4 linked regions of the Homo sapiens genome follow. The main gene of each other region encodes a partner of the protein of the gene in region 3 in a complex. Each region holds a gene or a part of one and is shown on either strand. Other genes may lie near its edges.

Region 1 (7,583 bases), on a different chromosome or scaffold from region 3:
CTGACTCCCAGATTGGAGAGTTTGCCCCATAGATCTCCTCCTCCAGCATGGACAGGAATCTGTAGGGAGGACACAGTCTGTCCCACAACTCTGTTCTCCAGGGTGCAGCCTGGGCCAGGCAGCAGAGGGACTGGAGGCTGGTCAGAGACAGACCCTGCTCTTAGGGAACTGGGGACCTGAGAGAGGGGACAGCCCCTGTCTTCTGGGAGCCTCCAATTGAAGGTAAGAGGACAGGACACATCCAGGACAGAGATCAAACAGGCTCAGTTTCACCACGCTGTGTGGCACAGGGAGACAGGTCTGAGCTGATGTCATCCTGTGCTGTGTGGCCAGGCAGGGCACCTTGTCACCCTGAGCCCCCTCACTGCCCTCAGTATCAAAATGGGCTCAGACTCCACCCCACCTTGCCATCTCTTGTTCCCACCTGATGGCAGGGGGCACTAGAGAGCCAGGATTAGTCAGTCAGGGTTTTTTGAACAGGGGAGTTATGGCCTAGATTTTAAAAGGTGTGGCCGAACAGAAGAAAATGGTACAGAAAAGACCAGAACAGGAGTAGAAATTGGTTTCACTTCAAGCTTAAGGTCTGGTTTCTTGGAGAGTTGTGCAGGGAAGGAGTCTGAGGCTGTGTCCAGGCCCCCATGGGAAACAATTAGTAACATCTACTGGGGCGTAGGGTCGGGTGGGGGCAGCGTTAGCTTGGGCTATGTACCTGCCATCCCCAGACTAGTACTAGCAAGTTGCTTCTGGGCCATGGGCAAGTCTGCCAGGTAGACGCCCAGATCCCAAAAGGCCCATGGAGGGAGAGGAGGGACCAATCCAGGAAGCCTTCCTGGAAAAAAGGGGACAACAGGGAGGATGTGAACTTGGGGCCAAATCCTGGTAGGCCAGAAGGAGCCTTACTTGGGGAAGTGAGTGAGGATGAGGGTCCTCTTCTCGGGCACCAATTTGTCCTTCTCCACTCGGAACTTTTCCAGCAGCTGCCGGCGGGTAACGGTGAAAATGGACCGGAGAAGGCTTCGCCCAAAGACATGAGTGGTTTCGTAGCGGGGGAGGCTATCACAGCTCTGGGGCACGTGGCAGTAACAGAGCCATCTGGAGTAGGGGGTCGAGGGGGAGACAGGTGAGGGCGGAAACCACTGAACCCAGGCTGGGCCTGCAAGCCTCCCCCGAAGCTGCCCCTGGCTGGGCCTACCTGGTGTAATTGACCTTGTAGGTAGCCACGTCCTCAGCCTGAGACCTCTGCCGAAACTGGGCAGGTGTCTCAAGCTTCCAGTAGTTAAGGCAGAGCAAGAACATCTTTGAGAGCTCGAACATCGTCTGCCGCTCCCGGGGAGCCAGGTGACTAAACTTGTACTGCACAAAGTTCAGCACACCCTGAGAAGGGGTGGGTGGGGGATAAAACCAGGAATGAGGTGTGAGCAGCCCGCAGGGCCTTCTTAGACAAAGGAAGATGCTCCCTGGCCAGGGACAAGGTTCTCCTTCTCCTCTCTCTCTCGGGTGCTCTCTATAGAAAAGCTCTGCCCCCTCCCTACCACCATGCCCACCCTGAGGTTAGCACAAAACACCCTTCCTTCTCTGAACCTCCCCAGTGTTCTCAGCTTGAGGAGAATGGAGAACACAGGCTCCCCACTCCTCCAAGCTGTCCCCAATTCTCCTATCCGCTATCTCCAATTCCCCTATCTCACCTGCTCAATATTAGGTTTCTCAAATGGAGGGCTGCCCAGGGACCCCTCCACCACAGGCCGGGTCATCTGCAGGATGCATTTCCGCAGTAGCTAGAGAGAAGAGGAAGGGGGCATAGAGGGGAGGGGGGCAGAGCTGCAGACAACCCCTCAAGGCCCCACCTCCTTCACTCACACCCTCCTTTAGTGGAAGCTCACCTTGAAGAGGTAGAAATAGACCTGCTTGGTGTCTGTGTCCTCTTCCTTGTGAACAGACATGAAGAGATTCTCCACATCCACCACCATCCCCAGCAGTCGGTTTATCTCATCCTCTGACACATTCTCCAAGTGGGATACGTGGTCAGCTGCAAGACAGATGGCAGAGTTAGGAAAAATTGATAGAAGAAATCAACAAGGCTTCTTGACCCTCTTCACAGCCAAGCAAGATACACACTCTGTTCCTCCAACCAGTGTGACCAACAGTGAGACTGACTGCTCCGATATCAACCGTTGGGTTGCCTGGGCCTGTTCTGGGCTGAGAGATTTCCTTTCTCCCCCCTTGGTGCACACCCCCCCCCAACCCAATCCCTCCTTCGAGGCATCTTTGATTTTTTCAGAGATGAAGCTTTGTGGCACTTGTCACCCTGTCCAAGCAGGACCCAGCACCTGCCCCCAGCTCCAAGGGCGCTGCCTGCCTTACCCAAGGGGTGCTCACAACTGCGGCACAGCTCACTCAGGTTGGCAGCTGGCTGCTGCAGATCCATGCGGGGTGCAGTGGGGGGCTTGGGGTTTTTCCAGCCATTACACTTACAGGTTTCATTGGCCTGGAGGTGGAAGGATCAGTCAATGACCTATACCTCTGGGGCAAGAGCCGCTCCGCAGCCAGAGCTTTGACCCCATTCCCACCAGAGCCCTGGGATGCCCCAAGCCCCGCCCCTTCACCCCAGGCCCCGCCCCCACCTTGCAAGCCGAGAAGACCCCTAGCTTCTCAAGCTTCTTGGCGCGCGGCAGCCCCCGGACTTGCGCCTTCCTCTGACTGGCGCGCTGCTGCTGGCTCAGGCCAGGTCGAGCCGGATCCCCCCCGCTCCCGGCCCCCCCACTTCCTACCCCGGGCCCCCCAGTCCCTGTGCTGCCGGCTGGGGCTGCAGCTGGGGCAGGGGCTGGTGCCGGGGTGGGAGTCGGAATCGGGGCTGAAGCCGGGCTGGGTGCAGGAGTCGGAGTTGGGGCAGGGGCTGGGGACTGAAGGGGCCGGGGCTGCGCAGCCGGGGCCGGGGTCGGGGCCTGGGAAGGTTCCGCCATGGCCTCCCCCGCAGCGGAGAGCGGCGCCGCGCTCCCAGCCCTAGGGCCGCATGGGCAACCAGCGCTCAGTGCGCAGGCGTTGCTGCGCGGCGCATGACGGGAGTTGTAGTCTTCCCGCGCCTTCCCCTCACTGCCTCCAGCTTCCAGACTTTTCTGTCCTGTCTCTTGGCCCCTGACAGCCAAGTGAGGCCTGAGTGAAGGCCCCACATTGACCCCTCTTCACTTGTAATCTCTTTTAATGGAGTCCGGGAGAGTCACGATGGCTGTCCTCTTGGGGACAAGGAGTCTTGGGGAGAATCGTGGGGTCTGCCTCTTTCACGCGCCTGTCTCCCACTTAACCCCCTCCCCCAACTCCCGCACAGGCCCTGCCCCACGCGGCTCCGGACACGGAATTGCAGCTGCGGTAGAGATGAGATGTAGCAACAGTTCTGCAGTAGTGTGGTGGTGACTTGGGTGTGTTCTCCTCCTGACATTCACCTGCACCTTTTTCTGCGCTTTTCAGTATGTATGTATTTAATAGTATCACTCAACAAAAAGGAGTTTATCAGGCCGGGTGGCTGGCTCACGCGGGAGGAGAGCTTGAGCCCTGCAGGAGTTCGAGACCAGGCTGGGCAACATTGGGAGACCCCCCCCACCAATCTCTACAAAAAAATAAAAAATAAAGTTTATAGGCTGGGCGAGGTGGCTCACGCCTGTAATCTCAGCACTTTGGGAGGCCGAGATGGGAGGATCGCTTGAGCCCAGGAGTTCGAGATTAACCTGGGCAACATAATGATACCCTGTCTCTTAAAAAAAAAAAATTATCAAATAACAGCACCAGAGGCATAGCTGTGGTTATGATGGTCACCAAGAAGGCTACTGACGTGGAGGGTGAGGCGGAGGAGGGCTAGGTCTTTCTCTGTGCACTGGGAGCCACTCTCCTGAAGCCCCAACTGCGTCTTCATCTTTGTGGCCCCAGAGCCCAGACCACAGCCTGCAGCACAGGACGCCCCGGGAAGAATTAATGCAGCCGGAGAGACCAGTCCACCTCCTCGTGTCGCGTGTCCGCGTGGGGTTGTGGGTGGTCAGGGAGAGGTAGGGTGGATGACCCAGGAAGGCCGCCCTCCCCTGGCTCTGTCTAGGAACAATCCTTGCCCCAGGCCTGGTCCTTAGAAGGCAAGACAGCCCCCTTCCAGCTGGGGGATCAATCTGCTGTTGGCTGCGCCAGGGTGCGGCTCCCTCGGGTCTGGCCTGGTCGTGGATCCAGTTCCTTCACAGCTGCGGCCTCCCCGGGTCCATTAACGAAGGTGGGGAAGGGCGGAGAAAGGGTCGGAGTCTGGGAGGAGAGCAGCTGCGGGCGCGCCAGGGCGCTGACAGTCTGGCTCTTGGAGGTAAGATGGGCGTGGCTGATCCCGAACTCCGCCTGCGTTTGCAGAAGCGAAGGGAACCGAGCGAGCGGAGCTGAGCTCGGGTAGGCCGCGCGAGGTCCCTCCTCTCCGGGCGTCCGTGCGCCTAGCTCTGCGCTGGGAGCCTCGCGCCCTTTGACAGCAGTTAGTTGCTGACTCGGATGCAGAGAGTCGGTAACACCTTCTCCAACGAGAGCCGGGTGGCATCCCGGTGTCCCAGCGTGGGCCTTGCTGAACGGAACCGGGTGGCCACAATGCCGGTGCGGCTGCTCAGGGACAGTCCAGCGGCTCAGGAGGACAATGACCATGCCAGAGACGGTTTCCAAATGAAGCTGGATGCCCACGGCTTCGCCCCGGAGGAACTGGTGGTGCAGGTGGATGGCCAATGGCTGATGGTGACCGGACAGCAGCAACTGGACGTCAGGGACCCGGAAAGGGTCAGTTACCGCATGTCACAGAAGGTGCACCGGAAAATGCTCCCGTCCAACCTGAGTCCTACCGCCATGACCTGCTGCCTGACCCCCTCCGGGCAGCTGTGGGTCAGAGGCCAGTGTGTGGCGCTGGCCCTCCCTGAAGCCCAAACAGGACCGTCCCCGAGACTCGGGAGCCTCGGCTCTAAGGCTTCCAACCTGACCCGGTAAACAAACGACGCGATGTGCAGCAGCCTTGGTGTCCGTTGTCTTTTCTGGGGATGGAAGTCAGAGGTAGAGGGACTGGAGGCACAGGAGGCAGGAAAGGCACCCTCAAGGTGGTGGTCCACCAAGAATCAGGCCTCTGCGGGCAGATCACTTGAGGCCAGGAGTTCGAGACCAGCCTGGCCAACATGGTGAAACCCCATCTCTACTAAAAACACAAAAATTAGGCGTGGTGGTGTGTGCTTGTAATCCCAGCTGCTCGGGAGGCTGAGCAAGAGAATCGTTTGAACCTGGGAGGTGGAGGGAGGTTGCAGTGAGCCAAGATCCTGCCACTGCACTCCAGCCTGGGCCACAGAGTGAGACTCTGTCTCAAAAAAAAAAAAAAAAAAAAAAAAAAAAAATGCTGGGCGCGGTGGCTCACGCCTGTAATCCCAGCACTTTGGGAGGCCGAGGCGGGCGAATCACAAGGTCAGGAGATCGAGACCATCCTGGCTAACACGGTAAAACCCCGTCTCTACTAAAAATACAAAAAAATTAGCCGGGCGTGGTGGTGGGCGCCCGTAGTCCCAGCTACTCGGGAGGCTGAGGCAGGAGAATGGCGTGAACCCGGGAGGCAGAGCTTGCAGTGAGCCGAGATCGTGCCACTGCACTCCAGCCTGGGCAATAGAGTGAGACTCCGTTTCAAAAAAAAAAAAAAAAAAAAAAAAAAAAAGCCGACTGTGGTAGCTCACGCCTGTAATCCCAGCACTTTGGGAGGCTGAGGCGGGTGGATCACTTGAGGCCAGGAGTTTGAGACAAGCCTGGCCAACATGGTGAAACCCTGTCTCTACTAAAAATACAAAAATTAGCAGGGCGTGGTGGCGGGTGCCCGTAATTCCAGCTACTTGGGAGGCTAAGGCAGAAGAATCGCTTGAACCCAGGAGGTGGAGGCTGCAGTGAGTTGAGATAGCACCACTGCACTCCAGCCTGGGTAACAGAGACTCCGTCTCAAAAAAAGAAAAAAAAAAAAAAAGGGAATCAGGCCTCTGTGGCCCTGGGAGAAATTGGAGGAGAGTGTGGCCCTAGCTGAGCAGCAGCTCCAACAGGTAGCAGCAGAGAGCTGAGTGCCCAGACCTGATTCCAGAACCAGTAGAGAGCTGGACTGGGGCAACTTGGATGTGGTGTGGGGGGGTGACGTGGACAGAGGTGGTGAGGAAAGCCAGTGGCTACAGTCTTGGCCTTAAGACCAGTCCAGCGTTCCAGGGGCTGTTGGGATTCCTTCCTCTTCAGGAAGAGAGAGGATCCAGACCCTCTCACTGGTAAAGACCAACCAAAAAAAACCCAAAGAGGTTGTTTCTGGTGTTTCAGAGACTAATGATCATCAAATACACACTGCATGTCACCCCAGTATGATCTGGTAGGTGGGGGAGGGGAAGGGAGGTGGAGAAGTGAACACGGGCCCTGAAACTTCAAACTTGGTCAGCCCAGGTCAGCTACCTCATCGGAGCTGCTAACAGTAAGAGCCTCTTTCTCTTGGTTACCATGACCACCAGCATCCCCTCACATTAGAGGGGAAGATTTTGTTTAACAAGATTCAGTGGTTCATTTTAAATCAACTTCAACTACAGAGGGCACTGTCTGATAAACTGCCAGAGAAAGACAAGGAAGACAATTGTGAGGTCGATCGATCGGCTGACTATATTGACAAGATACTGATTGGTTACATGTTGAAGAAAACATACAATACAAAATACAGAAAAAGTTGGTTCCGTCCCCTCCCACTCCCCCCCTTACCCACCCACCCCCAAATACTCATCATCATGATTTGGTCAGAACAGGGCTCAGAGCCAGAGGTTGGGGTGACCGAGGGTGGAGGGGTTGTGGGCAATGGGTTCGTGGCTGTCACAATAATGCTGTGATAATGCTGTGGTTTCCCAGCAGGGAGGTGGGAGCGGGGAGGGGGCTGCAGCCTGATGAGAGCCAGCTGAAGGAAGAGCTGCCTCTCCCTTCCTAAGCCCCTTCCCAAGGTCTGCCCCACCGCCCAAACCAAAGACCACTCCGAACAAAGTGAGGATGTGGATGCTCTTGCTGGGTCCGCTGTTCCGCAGGAGGGAAAGAAAGGGTAGCTGCACTGACCCCACTGTCCCCATATACAAGGGTTGGGGGGCAAGAGCATGTGGCTACTCCCAGCAAGGGAAAATGGGAGAGCAGTAGAAAGGGGAGGAAGTGGGAAGAGCAGAAGATCATATATATTAAAAAAGTGACTTAAGACTTAAAATTGAATTAGTATTTGTACAGAAAGGTGCAGGTGGAATGACTCACTCCGGCCTATGATCAAAATTATATGGAGAAATCATGGTGGACCCCTCCCCCTGCCCCCCCAGTGGTGGCCCGAGTCGTTAAGTGCGATTGGTTAGAGTGGATTCCAGTCGGGTCATTCAGGCGGAGGAGGCGGGGGCAGCGGGCAGGCAAGGGGGGCTCAGTTGCTGCAGCACTGGCTCCGGCTGGCTGGGTTGTTCTCCTGGAGGTCCACACCTCGGTTTCGGCCTGGAGCACCAGTTGCATTCTGGGGCTCGTTCTTGGGAAGCTTCTTAGCTGTTTGGGAGGGGGAAAAGTGCATTTGT
Region 2 (7,023 bases), on a different chromosome or scaffold from region 3:
ACGGGAGATTTCATTCTCCAATTACATGGCTACCAAGTCATGGCAGGATTACATTTTTAATAAAGATCAAACCCTTTAGATGGTACAAATATGGATCTAATACACACCTGTACTGGGAGTGGTGGCTCCAATCACCTGCCCCGGCTGCTTGTCCATGATAACATAAGGATTATTAATAACAGAGCCGGCAGTGCCTTGCTTCACGTGGACTGGAGTGGAAGTCGGGGTTCGAGGCAATGGTGATGGGCTTGGAGTTGATATTGGGGAACCTTATTAATTAAAAAGAGAGAATACAAACAAAATACACATATTCAACTCACGTAAGAAGATGTCGAGGACAAGGAAGAAGGTCAGTGCCACCAGGACAAAGGTAACAAATTGGGAAAATAAAATGGATACTGCGTGCTCCCGGTACTGAGCAGCAACAGAGGTACAAAGGAGGCAGAGGATGTATGTTTCATGCTCTGCATCCTTATCCATGGATCAACAGCATCAGTATCATCGAGGAAATTGTAAGAAACAGATTTTATGGTCCCATCCTTGACCTACTAAACATAAATCTCACTTCAACAAGATCTCCTGGTATGCACCTTATAGTTCAGAAAGCAGTGCTTTACACAGCAGTGCAAAACTGCTGAACCTTTTTTTGTAACTGCTGAATCTTGATATGATAAATCTTTTAACACCATAGGCAGGCTTTTATAGTACTGGTTATACTCGAAGACACTAAAATTAGAGACCGGGCATGAGACACCAGGTGCAGTGGCTCGTGCCTGTAATCCCAGCACTTTGGGAGGCCGAGGCAGGCGGATCACCTGAGGTTGTGAGTTCGAGACCAGCCTGACCAACATGGAGAAACCCTGTCTCTACTAAAAATACAAAATTAGCTGGGTGTGGTGGCGCATGCCTGTAATCCCAGCTCCTCGAGAGGCTGAGGCAGGAGAATCGCTTGAACCCGGGTGGCGGAGTGAGCCGAGATCGTGCCATTGCACTCCAGCCTGGGCAACAAGAGCAAAACTCTGTCTCAAAAAAAAAAAAAAAAAAAAAAAAAAAAAGAAAGGAAGGAAGAAAATCAGTAAGTAAACAGCTAGATTTAAGAACCTGGTGTCTTGTTTTGAATAGGAAAATATGAAATTCACCTACCCAGAATAAAAGTCTCTGTCAATACTATGTCACAGCCGTAACCCAGAAAGATTCGTGTTCCCGCAAAATACTCTCAAAAGTTACTGACAGTTAAACATCCTCTACTGTCTTTTATTGATCAAACGTCATCCATGAATTTCTTTAAACTTCAAATCAATTTATATGTTCAGCCTATTCCACCTCTGAAGTAGCAAGTTCCAAAATTTTTCTACCTGGTAGGTAAAATTGCCTACCAATGACAGGGGACGGTGGCTCACGCCTGTAACCGGAGCACTTTGGGAGGCCAAGGTAGGTGGATCACCTGAGGTCAGGAGTTCAAGACCAGCCTGGCCAATATGGTGAAACTCCGTCTCTACTAAAAATACAAAATTAGCTGGGAGTGGTGACACGTGCCTGCAGTCCCAGCTACTTGGGAGGCTGAGCCAGGAGAATCACTTGAACCCGAGAGAGGTGGAGGCTGCAGTGAGCTGAGATCGCGCCATTGCACTCCAGCGTAGGTGACAAGAGTGAAACTCCATCTCAAAAAAAAAAAATTGCCTACCAATTAGAAGCTATTTATCTCTCATCAAAGATTTGGATCCTATTTCTACTTAGCTGTCTACTTACAACACCAAACATTCTTTTTTTCCCCCCTTCATTTAACTATTATACAGAAGTCCTCATACTTCCTGGTTATTTCCAATTGCCTTTTAACAAACATGTTTTGTTCTAAGGTGGAACAGTCAAAACCATATATTCCTACTAAATTTTACCTAACATAAAATGAAACTATCACAAGGCAAAAGATAATCCAATCTTAGTGAACAAGACAACTCAGAACTACCTACTGACAATAGGAATGAATAATTTTCTAGTGTGGTTACAGACAGAATAAAGCATTTCAATTCCCAACCAACTCTAACCCTTAAAATTTAACTCCATGCCAAAGGCCTCTAAATTTTTTCTATCACTAGTCACTGTGGTTTCCATGTATATAATCCCCAAACACGATTCCTACACCTTAGTTTCAGCCATATATCCTAGCAAACATTTTACCTGTGCTGATTCTGGCAGACAAAAATTTGACCATTTGAGTTTCATTTATCTCCTCCATTCATTTCCGTATGAATGAGCTTTGTTTTTGCCTTGTGACAGCTTTGCCAATCAACAGTGATAAACTTCCTTTTGTTAAACATAACACTGCTTAGAAGAACTTAAGAGAAAAAAAGCCAAGTATTTTGTTTTGTTGTTCCAACAATTTTAACATCCAGTCAACTCCACATACACTGTCTTCAAAACATCTGCATACCTGACACAATCTTGCAGCTCATGGTGATGGGCTGGAAGGATTTTCCAGGTGACTCAGGATTAGGAACCTGACTTTGTGGAACAATTTTGCAGCTTGATGCTATTGGCTGGAAAGCTGAATTGCCATGGGAACAAAAGGTAACTTTCTGGGATGTAGTCATTTTGGTGGGTGTTCTTTCCAATGAAGATGGCAAAGCATAAAACGGAGTGTGTCGTTCAGCTTCAGTGCTAGCTGGGAATCCTGCTTGAGATGAAAGAGGCAAACGGCAAGTCATCAATCGCTTTGAAATAAAACCTTACCGTTGTGGAAAAAGAATAAAAATGCATTATTTCAACACCATTTTAAACCATGTACTGGTAGCAAAATAAATACAATCAATCATCCCTTCATATTTTTGGTGAAAAATATATATGCTTAGAATAATGTTTAAAGTGCTTTTTTAAAAAAACTTGAAAACATTATTAACTATAAACCATGTATAACATAAAAAGAACAAAAGTTCTTATGTTCCTCCATTTTTTAATATATAAACTGAAAAACTGTTTAGAGAAGAAAAAATCTTAGAAAGCATTCACTAAATCTAATGATATCCTCCTATCTTATTTATTTACTTATTTTTGAGACATTATTTCACTTGTCACCCAGGCTAGAGTGCAGTGGTGTGATCTCAGCTCACTGCTACCTCCACCTCCCGGGTTCAAGCAATTCTTGTGCCTCAGCCTCCGGAATAGCTGGGATTACAGGTATGCACCACCATCCCTGGCTAATTTTTGTATTTTTAGTAGAGACGGGGTTTTGCCATGTTGGCCAGGCTGGTCTTGAACTCCTGACCTCAGGTGATCCGATGGTTTCAGCCTCCCAAAAGGCTGGGAATTACAGGCATGAGCCACCGTGCCCGGCCCCTCTTGTATCTTATTAAATGCCCATAAAAAAGATGCAATTGAAATCTAAAGAGGAATAAAGTTGAGATTTTATAAAAGAACTATAATACTAACCACATTAAAATATAGGCTTAGAAATAAAACATTTAAGATCAATTTTATATCTTTTATGCTTATATATGGGAACATTAAAATATGTATTTATACACATATATTTGTTAAATTTAAAAATGGCATGGTCAAAATACATTGTTGGTGATGAATCTTTTCTTAAGTAAAACCAGGTATTTAATATCCAAGTTTCTTGCTCGCACAATCAGAAGCTGAACCATAAAGTCTTCCTGTAATACATTATAAGGAATTATCAAGTGATAAAAATCTGTTTTAGGCCAGGCGTGGTGGGTCATGCCTGTAATCCCAGCACTTTGGGAGGCCAAGGTGGGTGGATCACCTGAGGTCATGAGTTCGAGACCAGCCTGGCCAACATGGTGAAAACCCATCTCTACTAAAAATACAAAAATTAGCCGAGAGCGGTGGTGGACGCCTGTAATCCTAGCTAACAGGGAGGCTGAGGCAGGAGAATTGCTTGAACCCAGGAGGTGGAGGTTGCAGTGAGGCGAGATCATGCCACTGCACTCCAGCCTGGGCAACAGAGCAAGACTCCATCTCAAAATAAAATAAAATAAAAATAAATTTAAAAATCTTATGTTTTTTAGCTATTTTTACATTTTATAATATGTCAGTAAAACTTCATGGAAATTTTTTTTTTTTTTTTTGAGATGGAGTCTCGCTCTGTTGTCCAGGCTGGAGTGCAGTGGTACCATCTCAGCTCACTGCAAGCTCCACCTCCCGGGTTCGAGCCATTCTCCTGCCTCAGCCTCCCGAGTAGCTGGGACTACAGGCACCCACCATCACACCCAGCTAAATTTTTGTATTTTTAGTAGAGACGGGGTTTCACCGTGTTAGTCAGGATGGTCTTAATCTCCTGACCTCATGATCCACCCGCCTTGGCCTCCCAAAGTGCTGGGATTACAGGTGTGAACCACAGCTCCCGGCCGGAAAAATATTTTTGACAAGAGTGGAAATTTGGCTTTCATAACAGAACTGTGTAGTAGAGGCAGCATGTCCACTTATAGCAAAGTTATTTTCCATATACTATAGGTCTCTGAAAGCAGCAAATGGGAAAGGAATGCCTCAGAACAACGCTATGCAAGGAAAACTGCTGTATTACCTTTCTCCACAGAGGTATCGGGTACTGGCTCATGTGACTGCTTTATTGGTGAAGAAGCTTTCACTGGGGCTGGAATGGTCAAAGGCAAAGATGGAGGGGCATCAGAGATGTCAGACTCCGAGGACTGAGGATAGATACAGTCTTCTCCGAGAGAATGGCGATGGAGTTCAACATCCACTACCTAGACAATTGGGCAACAATCAGGCTCATGAGTCCATCATCAATGTCACAGAAAGCTCAAGTCCCGTCCAAGAATGTAATCTCCGGGATGTGAGAGATAACTTCTAATCACACTTCAAAGGCAATTTCAATCTGAAGAACTAAAGGATTTATTCTAGAAGGTAATCTAATCTGGCTTAACAGACACATACCTCAGTGAAAATCTAATCTGGTTTAACATACAAATCTCAGTGAAATTATTCACAAAATTGGGACCTCTTGATTTTGCTGTTGCTACTCCTTACAACGCTATTCCTCCAAATCTTTGCATGGCTGCCTTTCTCACCAGCAGGTCTCAATGAAGTAGCACCTTCTCAGAGAGACCATGCCTAACCACCCAAGAATAAGCTACTTCCTTATCCCCCAGCTACTCTTATCTTCACAGCACTTATTTGTAACTGAAGTAATTTTATTTGCTTTTGTGTTTACTGTCTACCCTCCCCATTTTCAATGCCACTAAGAATTTGACTCTGAAGGAAGAAGCTACCGTGTTCATTTCTGTATTCCCAGCACCTGGACCAGCGCTCAATAAGTACCTTCTGATATAATACAGCAGATTTCTCTAGACAGAGTAAGATTTAATTAGTGAACTCTGATTAAATGGCTATTGCTGATTATTATATGATGAATACAAAAAAAGGGAGAGAAGGTGAAGAACAAAGTTGGAGGTCTCAGACTCCTGATTTCAAAATTTATTACAAAGCCATAGTAATCAACAGTATGCTGCTGGCATAAAGACAGACATACAGACCAATGGAACAGAATAAATCCTCACATATATGGTCAAATGATCTTTGACAAGGGTCCCAAGACCATTCAGTGGGGGAAAAGACAGTATTTTCAGCAAATGGTGCCAGGGAAACTGGATATCCATATGCCAAAGAATGCAATCGGACCCTTACCTTACACTATATACCAAAATTAACTCAGGATCAAAGAACGAAACATAAAAGCTAAAACAATAAAACTCCTAGAAGAAAATGTAAGGGAAAAGCTTCATGACACTGAATTTGGTAATGGTTTCTTGGACACGACACCAAAAGCACAGGCAACAAAATAAAAAATAGACAAACGGGACATCAAACTTAAAAACTTCTGTGCATCAAAGGACACAATCAACAGAGTGAAAAGGCAAAAATATAACACGGAATGGAAGTAAATATTTGCAAATCATCTATCTGGTAAGGGGTTACTATCCAGAATATATGAATAACTCCTGTCACTTAGCAACAACAAAAACCAAACCACCTAATTTAAAAATGGGCAAAGACATTTTCTGAATGTCTCTGAATAGACATTTCTCCAAAGAAGATAAACACATGGTCACCAAACACATGAAGGGATCCTCAACATCACTAATGATTAGAGAAACACAGATCAAAACCACAAGATATCACATCACAAACAACAGAATAACTACTATAAATTAAAATACAAAAAAAATTAACAAATGCTGGTGAAGACGTGGAGAAACTGGAATACGTGTGCACTGTTGGTGGGAATGTAAAATGGTGCGGCTACCACGAAAAAATATAGCAGTGGTTCCTCTAAAAATAGAATTACCATAGGATCCAGCCAATTCCATTTCTGGGTATATACCCAAAAGAACTGAAAGCAAGGATTTGAATAGATACCTGTACACCTACGTTCATAGCAGCACTATTAACAACAGCCAAAAGCTGGAAGCAACGCAAGTGTCCATCAGCAGGTGAACGGATAAACAAAATGTGGTATATACATACAATGCAGTATTATTCAGCCTAAAACAGGAAGAGGGGCGGGGCACAATGGCTCATGCCTATAATCCCAACACTTTGGGGGGCCAAGGCAGGCGGACAGCTTGAGCCCAGGAGTTGAAGACAAGCCTGGACAACATAGTGAGACCCTGTCTCTACAAAAAATAAACAAGTAGGCCGGGCGCGGTGGCTCATGCCTATAATCCCAGCACTTTGGGAGGCCGAGGCAGGCAGATCATGAGGTCAGGAGATCAAGACCATCCTGGCTAACACAGTGAAACCCCGTCTCTACTAAAAATACAAAAAAAAAAAAATTAGCCGGGCGTGGTGGCAGGTGCCTGTAGTCCCAGCTACTCAGGAGGCTGAGGCAGGAGAATGGCGTGAACCCGGGAGGTGGAGCTTGCAGTGAGCCGAGATCGAGCCACTGCACTCCAACCTGGGCAACAGAGCGAGACTCCATCTCAAAAAATAAATAAATAAATAAACGAGTAAGTAAATAAATTAGCTGGTCATGGTGGCACACGC
Region 3 (7,023 bases):
GCTCCGCGAACGCTCTTCCTGTAAGGAAAAGAGCAGCAGGACATGACGGTGGCCCTTTGTGCTGCTGTGGTACCCTGCCAGCCAGGCCAGAGTCCCCATCCCCAAAATACGGCCCTCATTTTCTTTTTTTTTTTTTTTTTTTGAGATGGAGTCTCACTCTGTCGCCCAGGCTGGAGTGTAGTGGCACGATCTCGGCTCACTGCAAGCTCCGCCTCCCGGGTTCACGCCTTTCTCCTGCCTCAGCCTCCCGAGTAGCTGGGACTACAGGCGCCCGCCACCACGCCTGGTTAATTTTTTGTAGTTTTAGAAGAGACGGAGTTTCACCGTCTTAGCCAGGATGGTCTCGATCTCCTGACCTCGTGATCCGCCTGCCTCGGCCTCCCAAAGTGCTGGGATTACAGGCGTAAGCCAATGCGCCCGGCCTAATTTTTTGTATTTTTAGTAGAGACAGGGTTTCGCCATCTTGGCCAGGCTGGTCTTGAACTCCTGACCTCGTGATCCACCTGCCTCGGTTTCCCAAAGTGCTGGAATTACAGGCAAGGGCGCCCGGCTATGGCCCTCATTTTCTAAATCCAAATTCAGGAGTTCAAGATGATTTTCTCCTTTGACTAATGCAAAAGCATTATAAAAGGCCTTAAAGGGCCTGGTGCAGTGGCTTAAGCCTGTAATCCCAGCACTTTGGAAGGCCAAAGTGGGCAGATCACTTGAGATCAGGAGTTCAAGACCAGCCTGGCCAACATGATGAAACCCCACCTCTACTAAAAATACAAAAATTAGCCGGGCATTGTAGCATGTGCGTATAGTCCTAGCTACTCGGGAGGCTGAGGTTGCAGTGAGCTGAGATCATGTCACTGCACTCCAGCCTGGGTGACAGAGTGAGACTGTTAAAAAAAAAAAAAAAAGAAGGCATTAAAGTTAAATCATAAGTGATATCTTTAATGATAGTCCTTTATCAAAGAGACAAATCAATCTATACAGTCAACGCAATCCCCATCAAAATTCTAATTGACTTCTTTGCAGAAATTGACAAGTTCATCCTAAAATTCATATGGAAATTCACGGGACCCAGATTATCCCCAATCTTGGAAAAAGAAAAAAAAAGTTGGAGAACTCATACTTCCCAATTTCAAAATTTATTACGAAGCTACGGTAATCACGATGGTGTGGTACTGGCATATAGATCAACAGAACAGAATTCAGAGTCCAGAAATAGACACATACAGGTATGATCAATTGATGTGGAGAAGAAGGGGTGGGGAAGAATGCTGGTGCAATTCCTCCCATATCAGTCATCCTGGGAGCAGAGCTGCAACTGCAGATGCTGGAAACTGAGACAGATCCTAAGAAAGAAATTATGACTATGCTTTTTAGCCTTTATGTGAGAATTTTTAAGTGCCTGATGGGTGGGTTGCGCCTTTACCTCAACCTGCAAAATGAGGTTAACAGTGAACACAGCTAGCTAGCTGCCTAGTGCTCAAGACAGCCAATAGTCCATACCTGTGTAACCCCACCCTATATAAATGGGAATGGATTGGGGTTGGGGGGGGATACTTGCTAGACTAGTACTGCTGCCGCTGCAATCTGGACCAGGTACAGTGGCCAAAGCTAACATCCCTTACAAAGGTGGAAAAGTTTGGGTGAAAACCAATCACAAATGGAGAGGAGAAACAGTAGCCGAGTTAACAGAACAAATTAAATGGGTTATGCAATGAGGGAAATCCAATATTGTACTCATACCTCAAGAGAGGCTGAGAGAGAGAGAATGCCATCTCTTAGGTCAGTTACACTGGGTGCCTGAAAGGGCGAAGCCCTGTGTCTGTCAGGACCACGCCTGCTTTTGGAAGCTGACGGGTGAGATGGGAGTCTGGGAACTCGGCAGCAGCTGTCTGAGGGACACCCTGGTTGTATGGGATGATGATAAACTGTTCTAACTGTGGATGACTGAATGGAATGCGTAATCTGCCTGTATCTTTTTTTTCCTTTATTTATTTTTTTGAGACGGAGTTTCGCTCTTGTCGCCCAGGCTGGAGTGCAGTGGTGCGATCTTGGCTCACTGCAACCTCCACTTCCCAGGTTCAAGCGATTCTCCTGCCTCAGCCTCCCTAGTAGCTGGGATTACAAGCATGTACCACCACGCCCGGCTAATTTTTAGTAGAGATGGAGTTTCGCCATTTGGCCAGACTGGTCTCAAACTCCTGACCTCAGGTGATCCACCCGCCTCAGCCTCCCAACATGCTGGGATTACAGGCATGAGTTACCACGCCCAGCCCTTTTTTCCTTTATTTTACAATGTATTTTATTGATAAACTCTTCTTAGAGCAGTTTTGGTTTACAGAAAAGCTGAGCTGATGGCACAGAGTTCCTGTATGTATACCTGCTCTGCCCTGCGCAGTCTCCCCTATTGTTAACATCTTGCATTAGAGTGGTGCGTTTGTAACAACTGATGAGCCAATACTGTTAGATAATTAACTACATCCATCCCCATGATGGTTTACTCTGTGTGTTCTGCCGTTCTATGGGTTTGGACAACGCATCATGTTGCGTGCCCCCCATCATGGTACCCTGCAGAAGAGTTCCACCCCCTAAAATCCTCTGTGCTCCACCTATCCATCCCTTTCATCCTATCTCTCCCAAGGCCCTGGCTACCGCTCATCCTTTCACTCTCTAGTTTTGCTTTTCGTTTACAGTTGGAATACACAGCACGTAACCTTTCAGACTGGCATCTTTCACTTAGCAATGAGTGCCGGCATCTTCTGACTCTTACTCTCCAGGTTACGTCTAAAAGGAATACCATTTGGGAAGGAATTTCTGGGATCTACTCCTTCCTGGCTGTGCGGTGCACAACTGCCAGCAAACTGATCCTTGTGTAGCTATAAACCCTGAGTATCGTGGGCAAAATGTGGCAGAGCATGCCCGATAGCCTGCAGTGAGCTACAGGCACCAATACGCATCTCCCTTGTATCTGTGAAAGAAAAGATATCAAATAGGGGAAAAATGGCTTTTTTTTTTTTTGAGATGGAGTCTTGCTTTGTCACCCAGGCTGGAGTGCAGTGGCGCCATCTCGGCTCACTGCAACCTCTGCCTCCCGAGTTCAAGTGATTCTCCTGCCTCAGCCTCCCCAGTAGCTGGGATTATAGGCATCCGCCACCAAGCCTAGCTAATTTTTGTATTTTTAGTAGAGACAGCCAACATGGCAAAACCCCGTCTCTACTAAAAATACAAAAACAATTAGCCGGACATGGTGGTGTGTGCCTGTAATCCCAGCTACTAGGGAGACTGAGGCAGAAGAATCGCTTGAACCCAGGAGGCAGAGGTTGCAGTGAGCTGAGATCGCGCCACCGCACTCCAGCCTAGGTGACACAGTGAGACTCCGTCTCCAAAAAAAAAAGAGTGTTTTTGTTTGCCTGGATTAATAGGGTGGAAGGAAAAGATATGGGGCATTTTTGTTGGGTGTTAAAAATGTTCTGAAATTGATCGTGCTAATGGTTGCACAATTTTGTGAGCTGCGAAAAACCACTGGATTATACACTTTAAATGGGTGCGTTGTATGGCATGTGAATTCTATCTCAGGATAGCTGTCAAACAAAATGAATCATGAAATCCTGTACATGGTAGAAAATCCAACAGGAATGGTAGCCATACACCAAATTCCCCTCCTTTCACTTTTATTACGTCATTTTGGTTCCTGCGAGTCCAATCTCTCTGAACACAAATGCCACCCCCACTTCACGGCTCAGCATCAAAGCCCATGTTCCCATCTGGGAATGGAGGGTGGTGACTTTTTACCTGGGTTTGTTTGATCAGCTGATGGAGCTCTGTGAGAAGTTCTGCAATGCGGGAATCGGCAGACACGAGGGCCATTGTCTACAGGGGCACCTGGTGGGGGAGCGAGGACAGAAGAGAACTCTGTTAGTGGCTGCTGTGGGCTGAACTGTGCCCCCTCAAAAGATACATTAGGCCTGGAGGCTCATGCTGTAATCCCAGCACTTTGGGAGGCCAAGGCGGGAGGATTGCTTGAGGCCAGGAGTTCAAGACCAGCCTGGGCAACACGGAGACCCCGTCTTTACAAAAAAATTAAAAACTTAGCCCGGCATAGTGGCACACATCTGTAGTCCCAGCTATTCGAGAAGCTAAGGTGAGTGGATCGCTAGGCCCTAGGGGGTTGAGGCTGCATGAGCTACGATCGTGCCATTGCACTCCAGCCTACATGACAGTGTGACACCCTATCCCTTTAAAAGATAGTAATAATAAAAAGATACATTGTAGTCCTAACCATGGTACCTGTAATGTCACCTTGTTTGGAATTAGGGTCTTTGGAGAAGTATTTAAGATGTCACTAAGATGAAGTCATAGTGGAATAGGGTGTGCCCTTAATCCAGACACACAGCCAGGTGCAGACAGAAGCAGCGACTGGACTTGGACAGCTGCAAGCCAGGGGATGCCAAGGACTGCCGGCAGCCACCCATCCAGCCGGGAGAGATGCGCGGAGTAACGGCCCCGTCTAAGCCTCCAAGAAGCAACAATCCCTTGTCTTTGGAACCAAGCTGACATCTTGATTTTGGAATTATGGCCCCTAGAACTGTGATGGAATAAATTTCTCTTGTCTTAAGCCACCCAGCTTGCAGTAACTTGTTATGGCAGCCATAAGAAATGAATACAGTGGCAAGCTATCCTTGGATTCTCCTCCACCCTATTGATATGTTTGAATGTCATATGTTCGACGAAGTCAAGGAGTCAAGGAGTGTATAATTTTTGTATATAAATACAAAAATTAATATGAAGTGCCTTAAAAAGATAGCATGCCCTTAGCCCCTGCTCTGCTGCCAATATCCTGACAAATGATTCAAACATTTCTGGTATCCATATTTTAATCTGTAAAATGGGGATCATCTCTGCTATATTTTGGGAGATTCAAATAAGATTTTATATGAAGACACTTTCCAAGTCATAAAACGCTGTTACTTTCTTACTATAGTGGGAAGATAATTTTTTTTTTTTTGAGACGGGAGTCTTGCCCTGTCACCTAGGCTGGAGTGCAGTGGTGTGATCTTGGCTCACTGCAATCTCTGCCTCCCAGGTTCAAGCAATTCTCCTGCCTCAGCCTCCTGAGTAGCTGAGATTACAGGTGTGTGCCACCATGTCCAGCTAATTTTTGTATTTTTAGTAGAGATGGGGTTTCACCATGTTGGCCAGGCTGGTCTCAAACTCCTGACCTCAGGTGATCTGCTTGCTTCAGTCTCCCACAGTGCTGGGATTACAGGCGTGAGCCACCACGCCCAGCCAGCATGGGGAGAGAAACTACTGTAAAATATCTCAATCAAGATGAATGTACTCTGATGAAAATAAAATGCTTCTGTACAATAAAAGATAATTAGGGCCGGGCGTGGTGGCTCATGCCTGTAATCCCAGCACTTTGGGAGGCCGAGGAGGGCAGATCATGAGGTCAAGAGATCAAGACCATCCTGGCCAACATGGTGAAACCTTGTCTCTACTAAAAATACAAAAATTAGCTGGGCATGGTGGTGGGCACCTGTAGTCCCAGCTACTCAGGAAGCTGAGGCAGGAGAATTGCTTGAACCCGGGAGATGGAGGTTGCAGTGCGCCGAGATCACGCCACTGCACTCCAGCCTGGCGACAGAGTGAGACTCCGTCTCAAAAAAAAAAAAAAAAAAAGATAATTAGAACAAGAGTAAAAAGACAACCAAAAGTAATCAAGAGTGTAAGTTACAAGTAGGTGAAAATAGACATATGCCTCAAGATAAAGGTATATTTGATAAAATAAGGGGATATTTTTTACAGTGCTAAAATTTTGCACAATAGCCTGCATCTTACAAAGTTTGTTCAAGCTGGGGGCAGTGACTAACACCTGTAATCCCAGCACTTTGGGAGGCGAAGGTAGGAGGATGGTTTGAGTCCAGGAGCTCGAGATCAGCCTGGACAATACAGCAAGACCCTGTCTCTATTTTTATTTTTTATTTATTTATTTTTTGAGATAGAGTCTTGCTCTGTCGCCCAGGCTAGAGTGCAGCGGTGCGATCTCTGCTCACTGCAACCTCGGCATCCTGGGTTCAAGCGATTCACCTGCCTCAGCCTCCAGAGTAGCTGGGATTACAGGCACCCGCCACCTTGCCTGGCTAATTTTTTGTATTTTTAGTAGAGACGGGGTTTCACCATCTTGGCCAGGCTGGTCTCAAACTCCTGACCTCGTGATCCACCCACCTCGCCCTCTTTTTTTTTTTTTTTTTTAAAGTTGTTCAACTAACACATCCTCCTACTCACAGAGATCAGATTCACGATGAATGGAGTAAACTCTTCCCCCCACTTAATCAACTGCGAACCTCTCGCCATGTATTTATTCATATCTTCTTACATGCTCTGCTGCTGCTATTTAAAAGTATAATAACATACAAACTAGGAATAGAGGGTAACCTCCTCAACCTGATGAAGGGCATCTATGAAAAACCCACAACGAACATCAGACTTAAAGGCGAAAGATTAAAAGCTTTCCCCTAAGTCAGGAACAAGATGAGCATGGGCCCTTGTCATTTCTAGTCAACATTGTTCTGGAGGCTCTCGCCAGGGCAATGAGGCAATAAGATGAAATAAAAGGCATCCACATTGGAAAGGAAGAAGTACAACTATTTCTATTTGCAGATGACATGACCTTGTATATAGAAAACCCTAAGGAATCCATTAAACAACTATTAGGACTAAGACAAGGTTAGAACTCATAGCAAAGTTGCAGGATACGAGATCAATAAACAAAACTCAATTGTGGCCAGGCCCCAGAGGCTCACGCCTGTAATCCCAGCACTTTGGGAGGCTGAGGCGGGAGGATCACTTGCAGCCAGGGGTCCAGACGAGCCTAGGCCACCAGACGAGCCTGAGCCCCACTTCTACTTTATAAATTTTTTAACTTTAAAAAAAGAAAGCTACAGTAATCAAGATGTTGTAAGCAAAGACATCTAGTTCAATGGAATAGAACTGAGAAACCAGAAATGGTCGACTAATTTTCAACAAGGG
Region 4 (7,023 bases), on a different chromosome or scaffold from region 3:
TAATGACTGAGAATATCCCCAATTTAATGTCAGACACCAAACCACACATTCAGGAAGGTCAGCGAACACCAAGCAGAATAAATGCCAAGAAGCATATAAAATACCTCTGACCAAAAGAACAGAGTTGTCAAGTAAGACAAATGAGAACAAACACAATTTCTGTGTTTTGGATGTGCTGGAAAATAAAATAATAGAAAAAAGAAAACAAAGCTTTAAAAAGAGAAAATAAAAGACACTTAACATGCACTAATTAAAGATAAAAAACAAAGAGAAAATTCTGAAAGTTTTAGGAGATGGGAGAATAAAACAAGGAGGCCACTTAATTGATAAGAAACAAAAAAAATTTTTTTTTTTTGAGAGAGAGTCTCACCCAATCACCCACGCTGGAGTGCAGTGGCATGATCTCAGCTCACTGTAACCTCTGCCTCTCTGGTTCAAGTGATTCTCAAGCCTCAGCCTCCCAAGCAGCTGGGATTATAGGCATGCGCCACCAGGCCTGGCTAATTTTTTTATTTTTAGTAGAGACGGGGTTTCACCATATTGTCCAGGCTGGTCTCAAATTCCTGGCCTCAAGTGATCTGCCTGCCTCGACCTCCCAAAGTGCTGGGATTACAGGCATGAGCCACTGAGCCCAGTCAAAAATTTCTATTTCTTATCAGTACCGGGGTTCTCAGGAGTGACACTGTATGTAAGATGATAATGAAGTCATAATTTCAAAATATCAATGGAAAAAACTAAAATAACAATTTTATATGACTGCTATCATTTAAATGAAAAAGTGAAATGAAGATATTCTTAGTCGTATAAGTTTTCAAAATTAACCTCAAAAAGCCCATATTTTTAAAGAACTGTTAGAGAAAGCAGTCCAGCAAGAAATTAATCTAGAAAGAAACAATAGGACGAGTGAATAATTTAGTAAAGATTTATGTCATTTAAATAAGCAATACAAAAGAAAAAAAGAGATAAGTGCATGAAAATGTACTTTTTTGTTTGGGGGGACAACCACATGATATTAAAAAAAGAATAAGGAAAAATAAATGTATCTTAAGTTAGGACCTATAAAAAGAATAAAAATAGAATGTATAACTTTCTTTATGGTACAGAATGAACATCACATAAACTATTTTCTCTGATCATAATACAACATTAGAAATCACATCAATTACCAAAACATAGCTTAAAATTCTCATATATCTGAAAACCAAAAAACAACTAAATAACCTTTGGATTAAAGAGGAAATAATGAGAAAAATAACAAAATGCCAAGTACTGATTGGAAATAAAATCACATCATTTCAAAAGTCAAGAATCACAGCTAAAGCAGCACTTATTGAGAAACTTATAGCTACGAATACATTCAAAGAATAAATATAAAACAAGAGTATGGATTGAATAAATGCATTTACAGCCACTCCCTGTGTAAATACATTAAAATTTATACTAAAATTCCAAGTTAAGACTGGGTTAAAACACAAGCATATAAAGCTTTACTACTTCCCAAAATCCCACTAAAACTATAGAAGCTGACTTAATTAGAACAGTAACTGGTAAACAGATGGACAAATAGTAACTGATTTAACACCAAAATCCCAAAGTGGCTTTGGGTAAGCTAAATGAGAACTAACCCAATCTATACTACAGAACCCGCTAAAATCCAGGCAGCAGCCAGCAGATTCCTCTGGAACTGGGACCAAATGGGACAATAAAATAAGGAGCAGGCAAACACCATGTGGAAAGCAGTATGATCCCCAGATCCTTCCACTCCCTGTTGCTGGGTGGCTGCCCTCCCCCAGAAGCCAGGAGGTCTGATCTCTAGAGAACTAACAGGGGATCCAGCTGGAGGGCTGAGGTGTGAGTACCTGACAAGCTGAATGCTAAGGTCCCTCTTCCCCAACTTGGCAACCAGCATCCTGAGCCCAGAAGATTATTCCCCAGGGACTCTGACTAGATTCAAAGAAAAAACCTAAAGGAAGTGCAGTGGTCCTCAACAGAGGTCTCACCTAGACAATGTGGCTGTGTATGGAATTCCAGGTTCAACCTCACTTAATGAGGGTCTTTTCAGTATGTTGGTCTCAAATTTTACTTCCCATGCAGCTTTTCTCAGGAAGTCATTAAGAACAAGGGAATAAACCTATAACAAGGTAAAGATGGGCCACAGGAAACAGGAGATCAAATACAGAGGAGGGCAAAAGAATCTCCAGAGAGGGGAGATCCCAACACCCCTGCTGAGTTTCACAACAAAGGGTGAACAAGTGTGACCCAAGGGGCAGACATAGTGTAGAAAGTAAAAAGTTTCCTCTTCAAAGTTTTCCTTCTTGTTAAAGAATAAATCATAAGTGTTAGAAATAACAGTTTCTTTTAAAGACTAACTTTCTTCAAGTCTCCTTGCCTTGTGCTAATAACTCTTTGTTAAGCCCTATCCTCTGTAACCGTTGGACATGCTCACAGGCACGTTCCAGCCCACAGTCTACGCCCCTTCCTTATTTGGAAATGTTATTGCTTCCTTAAACCTTTTGTAAGCAACTTCTTTGTTCTTCCCTGCACTTACCTATTTAGGAAAGTTTTAGGCTATTAGCAAATCGGGTATCAGTTTAAGATTGTGAGGTCCCGCTCCAGCCAGTGGATGCAGGACACAGCAGTAAGGACGACCCAAGTGCGTAAGGGATAAATATGTCTGCTTTTCCTGTGTTCAAGTGTGCTCTCACCTTTGTTCCATCTGCAACTGAGCACCCTTTCTACAGAAAGAAAAGATGGCCTTGCTGAGATACCTTTTGTCTCTGTGCTGACTTTTCTTCGCAGCACCGATTATCTATTTCTAACAATTTTGGTATTTCTAACACATATTGAGGCTATCATCCTTAAGTCCTTGCTGCCACTGACCATCTTTTAAACCTATGGCGTCGTGGCCCAGAATCTTATCTACGCTCAGCTTGTCTTCACCATGTACAGGTGAGCCTCCTGTACACCACCCATGCCCACCCCAAAGACCAGCTGATGATGCTCACTCCACAAATAACTGCTTTGACCTTCTGCAAGCTGGAAGGAAGCTGTCAGCTCAGGCAGGAAATACAGAGGATCCCACTTCCTCTGCCCAGATTTCTGCCGCATCTCTGGTATACATCACAGCCCTGGCTGATGCATACGCTATGGTGAGCCTCATGTTTCCCAGGACTCCCTAGTGACCTTGGCCAGTGACTACCTCAGAAGGGGTTCATGGAAGCCGAAGCCAGAACATCACTGTAAGTATTAGTTTCCCAGGGCTGTAGGAACAAAGCACCACAAACTGGGTGGCTTAAAACAACAGGAATTTATTGTCTCACAGTTCTAGAGGCCAAATGTCAGAAGTCACAGTGTGGGCAGGGCTATGCTCTCTGGGGTACGCACTAGGGGAGAATTTGTTCTGTGCCCTTCTCTTAGCTCCTGGTGCTGCCGGCAATCCTTGGTGGTCTTGGCTAATTATATTTGCAAAGGGCCTATTTCCAGATAAGGCTGCATTCATAGGTACCAGGGTTGGGACTTCAACATATGCTTAAGGGGGACACAATTCAGTCCACAACAATGACCCAGAATGACTATTTAGCTTATCTTCTCCAGGAAACTTCATCTAATAGTGGCAATTTACTTACACAGCTAGATTTATGCTTGCTACTCAGTATTTTTTTAAACGAAAAGTATATCATTTAGAGACATACACATTTAAAAAGCAAAAGAATAATTAACACTGTAAGTCAAAGTGGCTTCCTCTGAGGGGAACAGAAAGTACACAGGAGACTTCTAAGGTGTTTACAACACTCTTTATCCAGGAGATGAATACATGGGCATTTATTTTACTAATATCTAAATTATACCATATTTCTATGCTGCCTTCTATCTGTATGACACATCTTACAATTTAAAAAATTAAGTATAGGCAGTAAACAGACAGGCCCACAAGAATAAGAACAAAGAACAGGTGAATATTGGCCAGGCGCAATGGCTCATGCCTGTAATCCCAGCACTTTGGGAGGCTGAGGCGATCACTCGAGCCCAGGAGTTTGAGATCAGTCTGGGCAAGATAGTAGGACCCTGTCTCTACTAAAAATAAAAATTAAAAAAAAAATTAGCTGAGTGTGGTAGTGTGTGCCTATAGTACCAGCTACTTGGGAAGCTGAGGTGGGAGAATTGCTTGAGCCTGAGAGTTCGGGGCTGCAATGAGCTGTGGTTGTGCCACTACATTCCAACCTGCGTGACAGAGAGAGACCATGTCTCAAAAAAAAAAAAAAAAAGAACAAGAACAAGTGAATAGATGACTAACAAAAGCATATGAACAAGCAGCAAATGACTTAACAGACCAAAGAAAGCCAATACCTAAGCCAGTGGTGAAGCTAAGCAGGGTGATTTACAAAACACAGCCTCAGGGAAGTGTAGTCACCTAAGGCATCAGGCTTAGAGCCTGGGGGGTATGACTATGGATTGTGAGGCTCTTTAAGAGGTTAAAGGCTCCAATTATACCCCTATAGTAATTATACTGCCCACATCTAGGAAATGATCTTTCCCTCCACGGGCAGAAGACTGGAGAGGCTCAAGAGGGAGATTCTGGACACAGGAAGCCAAGGGTGGGAGTACTGTACTGAAGACAGGGAGAGTCAGTTTACCTCCTAAACGATGGGCTCCTGGGCCCTCCCGACTTGGCTCCTGGTAGGCAGGCCAGTTAATACTGTGCTTCCCAGGAAAGATGGGAATTAGGAAAAAAAAGAAAAGAGGATCTATCTGGAGTAGGGATCTTGGTAAACTATAGCCCCCAGGCTAAATCCAGTCCACTGCCCATTTTAGTAGATAAAGTTTTACTGGAACACAGCCACACTCATTCACTACGGCTCTCCAATCACAACAGCAGAGTTGAAGAGTTCCGAATGAGATTTTGTGGCCGGCAAAGCCTAAAATAATTACTATCTGGCAGAAATACTTATTTCTTTACAGATAAAGTTTGCCAACTTTTAATCTACAGGGTCCAATATCCAAATAATGGGGAGTTCTAAAATGAGAGAACAGAAAAAATAGAAGATAGGAAATCAAGACTTTTCCATACTCAGGAAAGAAAGTTTCAAATTGAAAGGGCCCACACACCACATGTCCAGCACAAGGAAAGACATAAGCCCTACATACGGCACATCACTGAATAATACCAGAACACCAGCAATGAAGAGCAGATCCCACTAGCTTCCAGAGAAGAGAGAAAAACATGCAGACTCCAAACAGGCAATTCACAAAGAAACAACCAGGAAATTTAACCTCACCTGTAACCAAAGAAATATAAATAAAAAACAAGATTTCACTTTACAGCCAGCCAATTAGCAAAACTTAAAGGCTGGTTAGTGTCAAGTGCTAGCAAAGATAAAGGGAATAAGGCCTCTTGTTCCTCCCAGTGGGAGAGTATATACAGGTAGTTCTAAGTGGAATTAATTGTTCCCAGAAGCATCCACAAAATTTGGGTTCCACCGACCATCCTTTGAGCAACACTGATACCACACTGATCCCTTGGCTGCTATTTCTTCATGTTGTCCTTCGCAGATGTCTACACACCTTCAGATCCTCTGCAACACAGTGTCAGAGACACCGTCATGGCCTCAACAAATTTGTCAAAGCTACGACACAAACCATGCATATCTATCCTCAGAGAGAGAGAGACAAGAGAGACAGATGAAGAAAACTTATAGGTTATGTTTGAATGCCTAAAGGAAAAGAAAAACTCAGATGTATTCAGGTGTACTTACAATGAACAATTCTGAAAAATAAAGCCCAGCGATTTTTGTATTTTTTTCCCTTGCACTTTACTTTTCTCTTCCCAAATTACTCAGGATTTAAAAGGTCACAGCATAACCATGTCCAATGCCTAGTGCTGCCTGCCCCACCTCCACTCCTGCCCCCAAGGGCTTTACAGCAAGTGCTTGCATTCACCTGGTATCGGTCAAGGATTCTGAAGTCCTGACAGGTGGTTCTGTACGTGGCTTGTCCAGCTGGAAGTCTGGAAATTCCTCCTTCTTTGGCTCCATAAATCCCGTCAACTAACAAAAGAGCAGCATTAACAACTTGATCCAAGTCAAAAAGTGGTAATCCCCTATCCCTTTTCGCTTGTCTGACAATCAGTTTGCGTTTCAGTCTCCGAGCTTCCGGAGTCATGGCAACAGCACCGGGACAAGCTTCCAGCCTCTTGAGCAGCAGCTTTTCCTCGTAGATGCTCACGGGAGTATACCTGGGCTCTTTCGGCTTTGTGTCCTTCTCCAGCTGAGGCTTCCTCTTTTCTCTAGCCCTTGTTTGCAAAGATGTGTTTGAATCTGTGTCTTCACTGTCAATATCCATCCTGTCGGGTTTTTCCTCCTCACTCTCTACCTCCTGCTTTATCTGTTCAGGGCCTCTGACCTTCTTTCTGACCCCAACCACTGGCCCAGAAGCTACTGACCCAGCAGGGGGTGGGACGTACTCCATCCCTGGGTCTATGACTCCATCGCCTTCCATCTCATCGTCATCTGTGCAGAGTACAAAACAGTGTCATCAAGACATAGGAAGGAAGAAATGCAGAGCACACAGCCCACGGGGTGAAAACTTGTACATTTATACCATGGCCCATACCCAAAATAAAAGAGCAAAGCAAACAAACTCTTACCATGAAACAAGGCTTGTGGGGGCATCACATCTGGAATCAGATCTGCTTCTGAAAGCAAGCTAGGTGTGGCAGAATGAGAGGCAGGTGTACCAGGGGCAGAGAAATCCAGAGAAGGAGAAGGAGATGGGCTTGTCAGCGGGGTGCGGTCAGAGGAGCTCAAGGAGGAAAAGTCAATCACTTCGCCTTTTTCCAGAATCACATCTGGCCTGCGGCCTCGGCTTATGAATTTTACAGGGGTAGAAGATGTGCTCCTGTCAAGAAAGCCAGCGGCCTCCTTCTGGGCTCTTCTAATGTCTTTTGCTTCCTGAGTTCGAGACCTTTTCTCTTTTAATTCCATGGCAGATTCCACAGGATTCCGACTTGCTCGTTTTCTAAGTCCC

What was found.
Region 1: SGF29 (region 3) and KAT2A share a complex: the UniProt entries of both Homo sapiens proteins name them as parts of the ADA2A-containing complex.
Region 2: SGF29 (region 3) and YEATS2 share a complex: the UniProt entries of both Homo sapiens proteins name them as parts of the ADA2A-containing complex.
Region 4: SGF29 (region 3) and KAT14 share a complex: the UniProt entries of both Homo sapiens proteins name them as parts of the ADA2A-containing complex.

The regions. Positions count from the first base shown.
Region 1 is NC_000017.11:42,118,345-42,125,927, forward strand, and holds the start of KAT2A (histone acetyltransferase KAT2A), read right to left. Parts: upstream 3,024-7,583; 5' UTR 2,961-3,023; coding exon 2,622-2,960; intron 2,486-2,621; coding exon 2,362-2,485; intron 2,027-2,361; coding exon 1,881-2,026; intron 1,776-1,880; coding exon 1,686-1,775; intron 1,375-1,685; coding exon 1,193-1,374; intron 1,093-1,192; coding exon 901-1,092; intron 898-900; exon of another isoform or gene 710-897; intron 60-709; coding exon 1-59. Other genes in the region: HSPB9 (heat shock protein beta-9), read left to right, coding at 4,507-4,986; RAB5C (ras-related protein Rab-5C), read right to left, coding at 7,439-7,554. UniProt on the Homo sapiens protein: Protein lysine acyltransferase that can act as a acetyltransferase, glutaryltransferase, succinyltransferase or malonyltransferase, depending on the context.
Region 2 is NC_000003.12:183,749,774-183,756,796, reverse strand, and holds part of YEATS2 (YEATS domain-containing protein 2), read right to left. Parts: intron 4,725-7,023; coding exon 4,544-4,724; intron 2,675-4,543; coding exon of another isoform or gene 2,672-2,674; coding exon 2,432-2,671; intron 270-2,431; coding exon 108-269; intron 1-107. UniProt on the Homo sapiens protein: Chromatin reader component of the ATAC complex, a complex with histone acetyltransferase activity on histones H3 and H4. YEATS2 specifically recognizes and binds histone H3 crotonylated at 'Lys-27' (H3K27cr).
Region 3 is NC_000016.10:28,577,908-28,584,930, reverse strand, and holds part of SGF29 (SAGA-associated factor 29), read right to left. Parts: intron 3,877-7,023; 5' UTR 3,862-3,876; coding exon 3,787-3,861; intron 19-3,786; coding exon 1-18. UniProt on the Homo sapiens protein: Chromatin reader component of some histone acetyltransferase (HAT) SAGA-type complexes like the TFTC-HAT, ATAC or STAGA complexes.
Region 4 is NC_000020.11:18,161,860-18,168,882, reverse strand, and holds part of KAT14 (cysteine-rich protein 2-binding protein), read right to left. Parts: coding exon 6,644-7,023; intron 6,507-6,643; coding exon 5,938-6,506; intron 1-5,937. UniProt on the Homo sapiens protein: Component of the ATAC complex, a complex with histone acetyltransferase activity on histones H3 and H4. May function as a scaffold for the ATAC complex to promote ATAC complex stability. Has also weak histone acetyltransferase activity toward histone H4.